2 linked regions of the Homo sapiens genome follow. The protein of the gene in region 2 purifies or fractionates together with the protein of the main gene of each other region. This does not show direct contact. Each region holds a gene or a part of one and is shown on either strand. Other genes may lie near its edges.

The links. Proteins that work in one complex are often made in the same cells at the same time.
Region 1: the proteins of VCAM1 (region 2) and ITGA4 purify together in Homo sapiens (affinity purification with mass spectrometry; 2 studies listed by BioGRID). This does not show direct contact.

The regions. Positions count from the first base shown.
Region 1 is NC_000002.12:181,474,333-181,478,088, reverse strand, and holds part of ITGA4 (integrin alpha-4 isoform 1 preproprotein), read right to left. Parts: intron 3,130-3,756; coding exon 3,023-3,129; intron 2,931-3,022; coding exon 2,801-2,930; intron 2,270-2,800; coding exon of another isoform or gene 2,238-2,269; exon of another isoform or gene 1,869-2,237; intron 1-1,868. UniProt on the Homo sapiens protein: Integrins alpha-4/beta-1 (VLA-4) and alpha-4/beta-7 are receptors for fibronectin. They recognize one or more domains within the alternatively spliced CS-1 and CS-5 regions of fibronectin. They are also receptors for VCAM1.
Region 2 is NC_000001.11:100,718,200-100,721,955, forward strand, and holds the start of VCAM1 (vascular cell adhesion protein 1 isoform a precursor), read left to right. Parts: upstream 1-1,542; 5' UTR 1,543-1,661; coding exon 1,662-1,725; intron 1,726-2,276; coding exon 2,277-2,552; intron 2,553-3,756. UniProt on the Homo sapiens protein: Cell adhesion glycoprotein predominantly expressed on the surface of endothelial cells that plays an important role in immune surveillance and inflammation.

The sequences.
Region 1 (3,756 bases), on a different chromosome or scaffold from region 2:
CGGGGTCATCCATGTTGTCACAAAAGTCAGAATTTCCTTTTTTAAAGGCTGAATAATACTCCATTGTATATGTTTATGTATATATGTGTGTATATATACACCTCACACAATTCCTTATCCATTCATTCATCTGTCAATGGACACTAAGCTTGTTTCTGTAACTTGGCTATTGTGAATGCTGCTGCAATGAACATAAAAACGCAGATCTCTTTATGTGGTACTGATTTCATTTCCTTTGGATATATACCCAGAAGAGGGATTGCTGGACCATATGGTAGTTTTATTTTTAATTTGAGTAACTTCTCTACTGTTTTCTATAATGGCTGTACCAATTTACATTCCAGCCAACAGTGTGCAAGGGTTCCCTTTTCTTCACACCTTCGCCAACACTTGTTATCTCTTGCCTTTTTGATAATGACAATTCTAATAGGTGTGAAGTGATATTTCATAGTGGTTTGTAATTTGCATTTCCTTGATGATTGGTGATGTTAAGCACCTTTTCATCTACTTATTGGCCATTTTGATGCCTTCTTTGGAAAGAAAGCCATTTGGTCTCTTGACTAATTTTTAATCAGTTATTTGGTTTTTTGCTATCGAGTTGGTGAGATCCTTATACATTTTAAATATATAGGACTTATGCGAATATTATTTCCCATTCTGCAGACTGTCTCTTCACTCTGTTGATTATCTCCCTTGCTATGCAGGAGCTTTCTAATATAGTCTCATTTGTTTATTTTTGCTTTTGTTGTTTGAGCTTTTGGTGTAATTTCCAAAAACTCATTGCCTAGACTAATGTCAAGTAGCTTTTCTCTTATGTTTTCCACTAGAAATTTTATGGTTTCAGGTATCGTGTTTAAGTCTTTAATCCATTTTAGTTGACTTTGGTATATTTGCTAAGATAAGCGTTCAATTTCATTCTTTTGCACGCAGATAGCCAATTTTCCCAAAGGCATTTAAAAAAAAACTTTCAGGTTCAGGGTTCATGTGCAAGTTTGTTGCATAGATAAATTGCGTGTTGTAGGGGTTTGATGTACAGATTATTTCCCCATGCAGGTAATAGGCATAGTACCTGATAGGTAGTTTTTCAATCCTCTCTCTGCTCCCACCGTCTACCACCAGGTAGGCCCTAGTGTTTGTGCCTACTTTGTGTCCCTTGTGTCCATATGTACTCAATGTTTAGCTCCCACTTATAAGTGAGAACATGTGGTATTTGGTTTTCTGTTCCTGTGTTAGTTCGCTTAGGTTATTGGCCTCCAGCTCCATATAAGTTGCTGCAAAGGACATAATCTCGTTATTTTTTATGCCTGTGTAGTATTCTACAGTGTGTATGTATCACAGTTTCTTTATCCAATCCAACATTGATGTGCATTTAGGTTGATTCCATGTCTTTGCTATTGCTAACACCATTAATTGAAGAGAGTGTCCTTTCTTAGATTTTGCCCAACTGAAATATAGACTGAATCAAGATCTGCATGGACATAAAGGTCTATTATTACAAAGTCCCATGAATGAATGCTTTTGGAACTTTCTAAGGGGGCAAAGCTTTGCTTCTTCCAAAAAATGATATAAGTAAACTTCTATGAAAATAAGAATTGGAACCACAGCTTCCTTTTGGCTTTGCTAAGCAGAAAACTTCAATAAATTGGTAAGTCATTTATAATGACCATTTCTGGTCAGGAGTTTTCATCCCTTTAAAAAAATATATCTTACCTGATCCTGTATTTTACAATTGTAGATGGGTTAGGTTTATGGCATCTTGAGATTTTTGTAGTATGTGGCTATGTATATCCGAGAAAAACTAAAAACTCTACTATGAAAATATTTTAAAGATAAACCGAAAACTATTAGGAAAAAGAAGACAGCAAACATACAGAAATCAAGACTGAGTTTTATTGCAACTGAGAATCAATATTCACTTTTTTATCTTTTGGGTATCCGAAGGCAAAATAGGAATATATGTAATATAAGCTGCTCTGTGACATCACATTCCAAGGAAGAAAGACCAAAGTCTTATTAGCACCCATAATTGAACTCAAATACTTGGCCAAAGTTTTGCCAACCAATAAAATTTTTCTTTGCGTGCTGAGGGATTTTTTTTGAGTGAGGGTGGTTAGAAAATTATGAATTTGCATTCATATGTTTCTTAGCTCCTAAAGACGCATTGTTGGATTTTAGTTTTGCTGCAGATATCCTCTGACATGCTCTGTTGACATTCACCCCAATTCTGCTCACTTCTGTTATGTCCTAGCTCTGTACTTGCTGATGCTACCTATAGCATAGAGTTACCATGAGAAAAATGTTTCAAACTCAAGACACGAATCTCTTGCTGCTTGAAGGAAAACATGTAAATTAGAAAAAGAGATAGTGAGTGCGAATGAAAGATTTGCTTACACTGATTATTCTTCCCAATTACTCCTGGAAGCTAAAGGTAAAAAAGGAAACCTAAAGTCTTTCTTTTTAATCAGACTTCCAATATAATTTCACAATTTAAATGTCCTATATTTGCTGGGTACTAGTCTCACCTATACCAAATTGAAAGTAAATTTGATGCAAAAGTGGGTAGTTAAAGAGCTAGATTTCAGAGTTATTCAAATTGTAGAATTTTTATAGCACAAAGTGCATTTATGAAAAATAATGCTATTGCAATTGGGTAAAGAAAGAAATTGAGTAGTTAAAAAGAACATAATTACTTAGAAGATCTCCCTCTCCTCTGAACATCTAAACTTGAACATAAATTTAAAACACTAAAAGGTATTCACTTACTTATCTTTATCTAATTCGTATCAAAATCATGCCTTACCTTGATAACACGGAGCTATTCTTTTACTCAGTTCTGTTCGTAAATCAGGGGGCACTCCATAGCAACCACCAGTGGGGAGCTTATTTTCATTCTTTATGTAAAATATATTTTTCCATCTATGCCCACAAGTCTGAATAAAATAAAAGTAGACCAAATGATGTGAAAGCTGCACCCAGGATAGCTGATTTCACGATGGATCTGTGGACCAGTTCCAATACCTACCACGATGGATCCATTTTCTCCTGGCTGTCTGGAAAGTGTGACCCCCAACCACTGATTGTCTCTCTCTTCCAAACAAGTCTTTCCACAAGGTTCTCCATTAGGGCTACCTATAGCATGTGAAAATAATTTTATCAGTTGTATTGAAAACATTCTACAAAAGAAGAGAAAACTGTGCACTCATCCCCAGTATTTTTCTGTTAACTACTTCTCTATCTTATATTCAGTGCACAATGTGAGGATAAATGTGAATTACTCTGTGCCAACTAATTATTCTCTAATACAAGGTGACTTTGGTTGTAGAAATGACCTCTGACTGGTAGCACCATAAAAAGATAGACTCAATCATATAAGAGATAGCTAACAGGACTAGGAGTGGGGAAAACCACTTAAAGCTAATACCAGGTTGTGCAACTATAACTGCTGTGTCTAACGTTTGGAAAAGAATTAGCCATTTATCTAACAACGTAAGCAATATTATCAGAGCACTTTTAAAAATGTTTCTTCTACTGAGATATTAAGAATAGAAAGACTATAATACATCCTCAGCAATTAAGGTACAATTTATTGGAGCTGGAAGGTGATGATTAAGCATGCAGAAAGTGGAACATACAATTAGCATACCAATAATGCCTTGCGTTTATAAGAAACTGCCCTATGTTTACATTTATTGGAATATGACTCATGTTTTCAACAGAGATAAAAGTGATTTGGAAACCAGATTATCTCAGTAGTAA
Region 2 (3,756 bases):
TGATGACACAAACACTGTAAAGGACCTCTGGGTTACTTGTTTATAAGCTAGTATTTCCTGAATCAATTTTTCTGATCCCTAGATATTTGGTAGGTGAAGTCATACCTATATATCCCCACACCCTAGAACAGCATCTCCAACTTATTTTTCCCTCCTTGTCTTTTAGTGGGAGCCACATCAGTATCCAAGAGGAGATCCAGAAGCCTCTCCAACCAGGTAGGGACAGTTATAGATTCCAGACCTCAGCTATGGCCTTTGTTACAGAGTACAAATGTTATATAGTACAAGTTTATTGTACACATCCCATTGAGTCTCTGAGCTTTAGAATTTTCTTGTAGAATTTAACAGTTTTTTCATGCCGTATTTACATATTATTGCTAGTATTTAGAATTTTCTTCTCCAAATGTATAACGTTTATTATTGCATTTTTTGTATCCACTAAGTGGAAAATCATGCATTAGATATTGTAGAAGTAGATACAACAATGAACAAGAACTGGTCCTGACCATGAGAGGAACTGATGATCCAATGGGGGAGATAGACCTGCACGTGTTTAATAAAAGGAAGTGGCTATTCCGGTTTCTTTTTGATGGGCAAGCATTTTGCAAGGCCTTGGGCTATGTGTGTGCAAGGCTAAGCCAGTTAGTTAATTGGGATTTTTTTAAAAAGGCACTTCACTGGGGGGAAAAGGAACATAGAGTTGGTTATTGTCCCCTTGCCTATAATAAAAACCTATTATTTTTAATTTTTTAACTGGGTTTGCGGTTAAATCTCACAGCCCAAGAGATTTGCCACTTCAGATGGATTCCATACACTTGCATTTAAGTATGCAAAAAAATTCCAATTATCCAGCAATTTAACCAAATTATTGGTAACTTTTCTAAAACAAAAAAAAATTGTTTCCCTTGTTTTGGCAGCAATTTCAGTTACAGTCCTTTACTTTCTACTCAAGAAAATAGTTTCAAAAAGTTGATGTTTGTTGCTAAAAGAACTATTTTTATGAATAAATATAAAACTAAGAAGTTATGGTGTCCCTTTTTTAAAAAATGACTCATCAAAAGAAATAACTTTTTCCTTTCTCTTGTAAGAGAAAAAAATTAATCTCTTTTAGAATTGCAAACATATTTCCTTGATGGAGAAAATCAATTCACATGGCATAGTCGTTATTTATCCAGTTCAAAAACCAGAGTAGAATTTACTACTCTGTCTCCATTTTTTCTCTCCCCACCCCCTTAACCCACATTGGATTCAGAAAGCTTCATTCTGCAATCAGCATTGTCCTTTATCTTTCCAGTAAAGATAGCCTTTTGGAGTCGAAGATGAGGAAAAGCCTGTATTTTATAGTCTTGGAAGTGTCTTCTTTTGCCAGGACAGAGAGAGGAGCTTCAGCAGTGAGAGCAACTGAAGGGGTTAATAGTGGAACTTGGCTGGGTGTCTGTTAAACTTTTTTCCCTGGCTCTGCCCTGGGTTTCCCCTTGAAGGGATTTCCCTCCGCCTCTGCAACAAGACCCTTTATAAAGCACAGACTTTCTATTTCACTCCGCGGTATCTGCATCGGGCCTCACTGGCTTCAGGAGCTGAATACCCTCCCAGGCACACACAGGTGGGACACAAATAAGGGTTTTGGAACCACTATTTTCTCATCACGACAGCAACTTAAAATGCCTGGGAAGATGGTCGTGATCCTTGGAGCCTCAAATATACTTTGGATAATGTTTGCAGCTTGTAAGTTATTTCCCTTCATCTGTTTCAAATGTTAGCATTCAATTTTAGCCCTGGTTTTGGCTTCAGTCAGTTTTGCGATAGTAGTGAAGTAAAGACACTAGGATTTTAAACAGTAGGAAAAGTTAATTTAGTCTAACTTTTAATATGCAATTGAGTTTTGCTATATACCATTGTACTGTCATAGTTAGAGCTGAAAATTGATGTTTTTGGTATCTTTTTTTCCAAAGGCAATTGAGTAATTTGGATTCTGTCTCTAGTCGGTCTGTCTCTTTAGTTTCCTATACTTGACAATGAGGTCAAACTTAGCAAATAACAAAACAGCTTTGATAAATGGGCATCAAGGTTGGAACTGAGAATTCTCTCTACTGAAGATGATTCCATAAACTTTTTTGGCAGTGACTTCGGTGCTTTTTGGCTACCTTGCAGTTAGTTTGAAGCAGCTTAGGAAAGAGATCAGTCTGATCATATTTTAGACATTATACAGAGAAGAAGGAGGAGAATACTAGACAAACTAGTGGTAAATTTGCTTCTGTCTTTTTTTGCTTTTGCAGCTCAAGCTTTTAAAATCGAGACCACCCCAGAATCTAGATATCTTGCTCAGATTGGTGACTCCGTCTCATTGACTTGCAGCACCACAGGCTGTGAGTCCCCATTTTTCTCTTGGAGAACCCAGATAGATAGTCCACTGAATGGGAAGGTGACGAATGAGGGGACCACATCTACGCTGACAATGAATCCTGTTAGTTTTGGGAACGAACACTCTTACCTGTGCACAGCAACTTGTGAATCTAGGAAATTGGAAAAAGGAATCCAGGTGGAGATCTACTGTGAGTGCTTTAGAAAATCTTTGTTTTTCTCTCAATTTTACTTTAAAATCACTTTTTAAAAATGATATTTTAAAAAAAGTTTTAAAATGGATATTCATGTACAGATTCTTGGCTAAAGAACATACAACATCAGGAAAGCTAGGGACAGCTAAGGCCAACATGAGAGAGAGCAGGAATCCAAATCTTGGCTTCTATTTCTACCTCTGCCACAAACACAGTGACCATGTATAAGACTCAACCTCTCTGGGCTCTGGTTTCCTTAGCTGTAAAATGATCATTTCTAAGTTTCTTTTTGTTTTATTAAAAAATATTTCCATTTGATTACATCCTTACATGTTTACTTGCTTATGTGTCTGATTGATTTATGAATTCCATCCTTCAGGGATTTTCTATTCATTTATTCTTATGCAATTTGATGCTTAAAATTAGTTTAAACATTAAGTAGATCTATAATTAGTAATATGTATTAGTATAAAAGTGTTCTTCTTAGACATAATTGTTAATATCTGGAAACATTTCAATCATTTGACTTTGGTGTTGACACATTTAGGATTTTTTTTTGGTTTTTTTGGTGCCATGAAGCCTTGGTGCTCAACCGCTCAACTTCAAAGATATTTATATAATGAACTAGATTTGCCTCATGAAAGTGAGTGGATGTCCCTAGTTTACCAGCCTGACAAAATGCATCCCACTCCATTCTCCATTCAGCAAACAAAGTTAGCAAGAGGAGTAAAAAACTAACCAGACATAAATCATTTGCCTTTTGTTACTGATGGCCTCTCTTTCTAAAAAACTGAACCCATTTACGGTCATGTCTTCATGAAGACCTCATTTGATTATAATTACTTTGGTTTCGTTTTATTGTACCGGAGCTCAACTTTTCCCAGTAACCTTAATTGATTCTGCAACAAACCGCATGTGTTGCTCAAGCTTCCCAAGAAACTGTGCTTGGCCGGCTGCTTTCAATTATGCTGGTTGTATGTGCATAGTTTATGTCTGTGCAGCCTCCCGAGCTCCTTGAAAGCTTCCCTTATGTAAATACAGGGAAAAGTAGCAAGTTCTTATGTTACCTGACATCGAACTGTGTGGATTAGAGGAACATTTCTTACAGAATATGAGGGACAGAAATTATTGCTGGAAAAATGAAAAATACCATGTTTCTTCACATAGGAAAGAATTTCCAGCTCCTTTGTCTTTTGCCCAC